Regions from separate parts of the Homo sapiens genome. Here region 1 is linked to region 2. The links come from fine-mapping of genetic effects on gene expression. A gene starts in region 2. The other region holds a variant in brackets. All regions are shown on one strand. Distances are from middle to middle.

Region 1 (2,500 bases), 140 kb before region 2:
ACATGCCTGTAGTCCCAGCTACTTGGGAGGCTGAGGTGGGAGGATCGCTTGAGATGGGGAGGTCGAGGCTGCAGTGAGCCATGATCATGCCACTGCACTCCAGGCAACAAAACGAGACTTTGTATCTTAAAAAAAAAAAGAAAGAAAAGAAAAAAGAAAAAGAAAATTAACTGCATAGTTCATATCATTTACATATATATACAGAAATCAATTCTGGATACATTAAGGACTTCAGTGTGAATCTTGAAAACTGAGCTGGTAAGAAGGGGGCAAGGGCAGAAGGGCAGAGAGGGATGGTGGGAGTGAAGTAGGCACAACAAAGATGAAGGCTCATACTGGAAAAAGTGCCCAGAATGTCCCAGGACAGTGAGATGCTTCCTGGTCACTTGTTCTGCTTGGCCAAAGCAGGCAAAGAGGAGCAGGAGGAGAAAGGTCAGATCATCACCAGAAAGAGCTACCAGGGGTCAGGGTGAGGTCAAAGTAGGCACAGAAACAGCCATGGGAGAAGGCAATTAACTTTGGGCCAAGGAGATCAGAGAGGGTGGTTAACAGGTTCTCCTGTGGTGCTGACTTTGAGTGCTGATCACAGCAGCAGGATGGGGGCTGTTGGTGGCCATAAGTGGCCTCCCATCAGACTCTCACCCATGCCTGGATTGGGACCTCTGCATCTGGAATGTCCCTTGGGAAAGCTAAAGAGTGGATTCAGTACAGTCAAGTGAGCCACCTCCCACTAGATAACTCCAGAGAACAGGGGCAGTGCCAGCATCACCCCCAATTCAGAAGGGCCCTACCCTTGATTTAATTCTCAGCTGTCTTGAAATTCTTAATAATTTTTGCAAGGGGCCCTATATTTTCATTTTGCATTTGCCCCACAAGTCAAGAAGCAGGTTTTGCTAGGGGATGACAGTTCCAGGGACCACTTCTCTGAACCCCAACCACCAAGGACAGTGGATCGGTGCCAGGGTCCCAAGAAGTCCTGTCTGGCTTGGGTTCCAGCCACGTACAACATAAACCAACTTCGTTTAGAATGCCTTCCGTTGGTTTTCCACACAATGGCAGGAGACAGTGCAGCTGACGAGCCATCAAAGAGCAACAACAAATAATAACTGAACTAGTAAGGACACTTCATGCTTTTTGGTTAGTCAATTGCAAGTGAAAACAAGGCACATTATACTGGCCAAAGAATAATCTCTCAGAATGATGGAAGTCTAATGTAGGGAAGCTTACAGCAAGGTGTTGTCCACACCCGCCCCAAGCATCATGAACCAGAACGTTCTTGCCAAGGGTGATGG[G/C]GCTGCTAGAGGGAAGCATTCACACCCTTTGACTCAGCGATTGCATTCTTGGCAATGTGTCCCGGAAAGAAACACAAAGGAAAAACTTTACATGCCAAAGATGCTCAGGCAGCAGTTGGCTACAGTGATCTGGGAAGAACCTAAATGTCTAACAGAAGGAAAAGGCATTCCACAGCCTTCCAACGAATAAACACAAAGCCTGCGATAACGTGGGAAAGTGTTTATGATGTACAGCCATGTGAAAATGACATTTTTTTTTTTTGGATCTCAATGATATTAAAAGGATGTTTGTATAAAGGAAAAACATTGACCAAAAATAGAGACCTAAAAACAGTGGCAAAGGGATAATGGCGCTATGGAAACGCCATGCTCTTGAACATCTGGAATTGTTGTCTAAACAGTAAATAACCCTTAAAAATAATGAATGCCTAGGGCACAGAAGATTGGTCCTGCTGAATCTCAGAAAGTCTGGCCAAAAACAAAGCATGTGTGCTGGGGGACAGGTGAGGAGTGGGATTTGGGGAAGGGATTTTGCCAGGCAGATGAGCAGTTACCAAATGGTTAATGAACTAAGAGTCACATTCCAGGGGCCCTGTCCCGTACAAACTATGCTGCTTCTAATGTAAAAATATCCGCGGTGGAGGGATGCACCCAGTGGGCCTGACCAGGAAAGACACTTGTCCTCTAACCAGCCCCACCTATGGCCGAAAGGCTGATGGCCATGCCAGGTCAGGATGCGGCAGGCAGCCCCAGGGCGCTGTCCAGGTGGGGTTCCATTCCCCAAGTCTGTGGCCTCCTTCCGCCTTGACACACCACCCAGTGTGAGCAACTACTATTTCTGAAGATATGCGTCAGGAATCATTACTCAACACACACGTCACAGGGAAACAGGACATAAAAGGAAATTTATCTTTGGCAGCCCAAAGCCCATAACTTCATTTTTATTCATATTGCTCATCTATTTGATCAGATGCTGCTGCTGGTTTGAGCTGACTGGCACTTTATAGGAAAACCAGATGCCAGGAGAATGAATCTGCAGTGGGCAGGGCCGGGCCCTACAGGACACTCCCTGATGAGGTCAGAAGAAGATGTACATCCAGCAAACCCCTCAGTCCCAGCTCCAGCTCAACCCCATGCATCCAGACTCAGGCCCCTCTCTCCATTTCACTAGCCACCTTGAGATCTTTTCACTGAAGTCTCCCAAGCCC
Region 2 (2,981 bases):
GCAAAGGGAGGCTTCAGTAACCTCCTTTCAACCAGTTTCAGTGGGAAGACAGTGTTAGCTCTCTCACCACTGGACTTTAATTTTGAATCCCGTGCTGGGTCTGGAATAAGAAAGGAGGGCAGCAAAACACTTCCTAGCTCTCCGCAAAATGCCAAGATGGACTCCTGAAGGCCAAGAACCGTGTCCAATACATCTGTGAGTCTGTGGTGCCCAGCCCAAGGCCTGGCAACCAGAGGCATCAGGAAAGGTGGGAGTAACTGCCCCAGGCGGGAAGAATAAGCAGCCCTTCCTAAGAGTGTGGGTCCTAAGGACTGAACAAGGTGACTCTCTCCCTCAATCCCAAACACACAATGATGTTAGCTCCCGAACCAGAAAGGGCAAGGACTTTGAGGGGCTGACTCTAGCTAGCTGCCCCAAGCCCCACAACTGCCAAGCAGAAGGGAACTGAGGCCCCAGATCACTCCCTTACTCCACCTCCCCACTTGCCCAAAAACCCAAGCTTGCCAGAGGTCATGTCCGCAGATCACATTCACCCTTGCCAGAGGTCAGGGCCCCCGGCCCTTGGCGGCGGGCCAGAAGCGTGACTTGGCCTGCTGGAATGCATGCCCCTAAACATCTCTAGACTAGTGGCAGTGTCCGCCAACCATGGAGGCCCTCCATCACCATCCCTGCAGCATCACCACCCTCCAACCCCCATGTCCCACCCTGGCGCTTCCATACCTGTAGTAAGAGAGCAAACCATTGCCCAGCACGAACCAGCGGCGCTGGTAGCCCTTCAGATAGTTGGTCCACTTGAGAAGCCAGCCCTCGAAGCTGTCCAGAGGCAGTAAGGCCAGTGGGGCACTGGAGGTCGTGCCAGTCCCCGACATTGGAACCCCAAGAGGAGTCTTCGCCTGTCCTGGTCGCAGAAGAGGCAGGGGCTTTAACGCTGGCAGCGATCCTGACTCGGGTCTGAGAAAGGTCGCGCTCCCCACCGCCCGGGAGAGCGGCTCCGATGCGGCCTTAGTGAAGGGCCCAGCCCCTACACCTGAGCTTGACTCTGACCCCGGCCGCGACCCCTGCAGCAGTTCCGATGGCTGCCCAGCCCCTGGCTCCGGCTCAGACGTCGTCTCGGACACAGGTTCCGATCTTGGCACTGCCTCCGAAACTGCCTCCGACACCTGTTCTGACAGCGGTCCCCGCTCCGGTTCGGGCACGGGCTGGGGCTGGGGCTTGGGCTCCGGCCCGGAGCCGGACGTGGAAGCGCTCATGCCCGGCGCCGCCGTGTGGCACGACAGGCAGGGGACAACCGTGAACAGCGACGAGAGCCCGCGGGAGCGGCCGCCACAGCCGCCGCCTCGGCTCGGAGCCGCCGCTTTCCCCATAGAGCCGGCCGACCCGCGCGCGGCCGAGCGGCCAGTGGGGGCGGGGGGCAGGCCGGGGGCGGGGCCGGGGGCGCAGTCACGTGCGCGCGGCGCGAGGCGGGGGCGCGCGCGGGTTCCTCCGCGGTCCCGTGCGCTCCGTGCCCGTCAGCGCCCGCCGGCTGTTGTGCTCTCGGCCAGCCTCGGGCCATGTTTGGACCCTGGGTCCTTCCTAGGTCCGGCCGGTGGAAGGAGCTCTGACAACACCTGTGGGCGGAAGAGCTTGGTGGTCGGTCAACTCCGAAGGGGATGGCGCGCTTCAGGCCACGGTCTCTGCTTCGGCCCAGCCGTGCCAGGCGCTGGAGGAACAATGATGAATGCGGAGCCCGCCAGCTCCCAGCGCAGCTCTGCCCACGGGACCCTGCGCCGACGCCCCCTCCCCCAACCCAGGCTGGGGTGGGTTCGCTCTCCGCCACCCAGGAAAGCCGGGTGGGAAGCAGGTACGGCACCCAGAGGCCACGAAATGCGCACGAAGCACAGGGGCGCTAAAGGCTAAAGACGACGCCCCGCCCCCCATGGCAGCCATTACCTGTCTGTGGGTCGCTCCTGCGGCCGCCAGAAGCGGTGGCCCCAAGTGGCCGCCTCACCGCCTCCACCTCCTGAGCCAGCTGGCCTACGGTTCATGCCAAGGCGCTTCGCTGCCAGTGACGACATCGTTCGGGTTCTCTAAACAAATAGGGGAAGACTTTTTGTAAACCAAGCGTTTTAGTACAAGAAACATCTCAAAGTGGGATTCTGAACTTGGACCTCCCGGGATCCCTGGGTAGGCTGGCAGTCTGTGAGGCTTCCGCAGAGGTTTACCTGTCTGTGCATTTTTCCAGAGTAGGTCCATAACAAAGGAGGCTGTGACCCCAGAATGGTTAAAACATCAGCGAATTTTTTTTTCCGCTTTTTTTTTTTTTCCTTTTTGAGACTGAGTCTCACTCGGTAGCCCAGGCTGGAATGCAGTGGCGTGATCTTGGTTCACTGCAGCCTCCGCTTCCCAGGTTCAAGCGATTCTCCTGCCTTGGCCTCCCTAGTAGCTGGAATTCCACGGCCCGCACCATGCCCAGCTAAATTTTGTATTTTTAGTAGAAACGGGGTTTCACCATGTTGGTCAGGCTGGTCTTGAACTCCTGACCTCAGGCCAGGATCCTCCCGCCTCGGCCTCCCAAAGTGCTAGGATTACAGGCGTGAGCCACTGTGCCCAGCCATCAGTGATTTTTTTTTTTTCTTAAGAATCTATCCAAATGACGAAAGTTGATGGTTACTACAAATAATCAGAAATACAAATGGAAAGACTGAACATTGGGTTTCTGTCCAGACTTTTCAAGCTTAGACCTCTCTGCAGACTCCTCTTAGCTCACCATCACGTCTTACTCTCCCCTTACCCACCTATCCATTCCTGATCTTTGCTTGTGACAAGATAACCTGTGTAGGGACTGCTTCCTACGTGAAGTGGTCCCCAGAAGGAAGCAGATTGGAAGGTCCTAGAAATAGGAGGTGCAGACATGCACTGAGCAGGAGCCGCTGGCATCTTTGCTGGTGACTTTGAGACCCCTTCCTCAGGCACTTGTCTTTGAATGGTGGTCTTACCTGCAA

Alleles and levels. Positions count from the first base shown, and alleles are read on the strand shown. Sizes are in standard deviations (SD) of each study's normalised expression.
For the expression in unexposed skin of the gene that starts at base 1,400 in region 2, C is the high allele of the variant in region 1 and G is the other (small effect, 0.20 SD a copy in GTEx).

Evidence for each region. PIP is the estimated chance that this variant, and not a neighbour inherited with it, causes the effect.
Region 1: its variant is the best candidate, but not a certain one, in a credible set for the expression of OSBP2 in unexposed skin (GTEx, PIP 0.58).

Annotation. Positions count from the first base shown.
Region 1 is chr22:30,829,940-30,832,439 of GRCh38, reverse strand. All of the region lies in intron 2 of OSBP2 (oxysterol binding protein 2), which reads right to left. Among named protein-coding and RNA genes, the nearest start is that of MORC2-AS1, 91 kb to the left of the region's middle. RefSeq lists enhancers at 1,548-2,048, 2,049-2,500, 1,485-2,500. The variant G/C (reference allele first, on the strand shown) is at 1,293.
Region 2 is chr22:30,693,293-30,696,273 of GRCh38, reverse strand. It overlaps OSBP2 (oxysterol binding protein 2), which reads right to left and starts at 1,400. Exons shown (of 14, transcript NM_030758.4): 1 at 721-1,400. The coding sequence starts at 1,364. RefSeq lists silencers at 1,214-1,263, 1,648-1,727.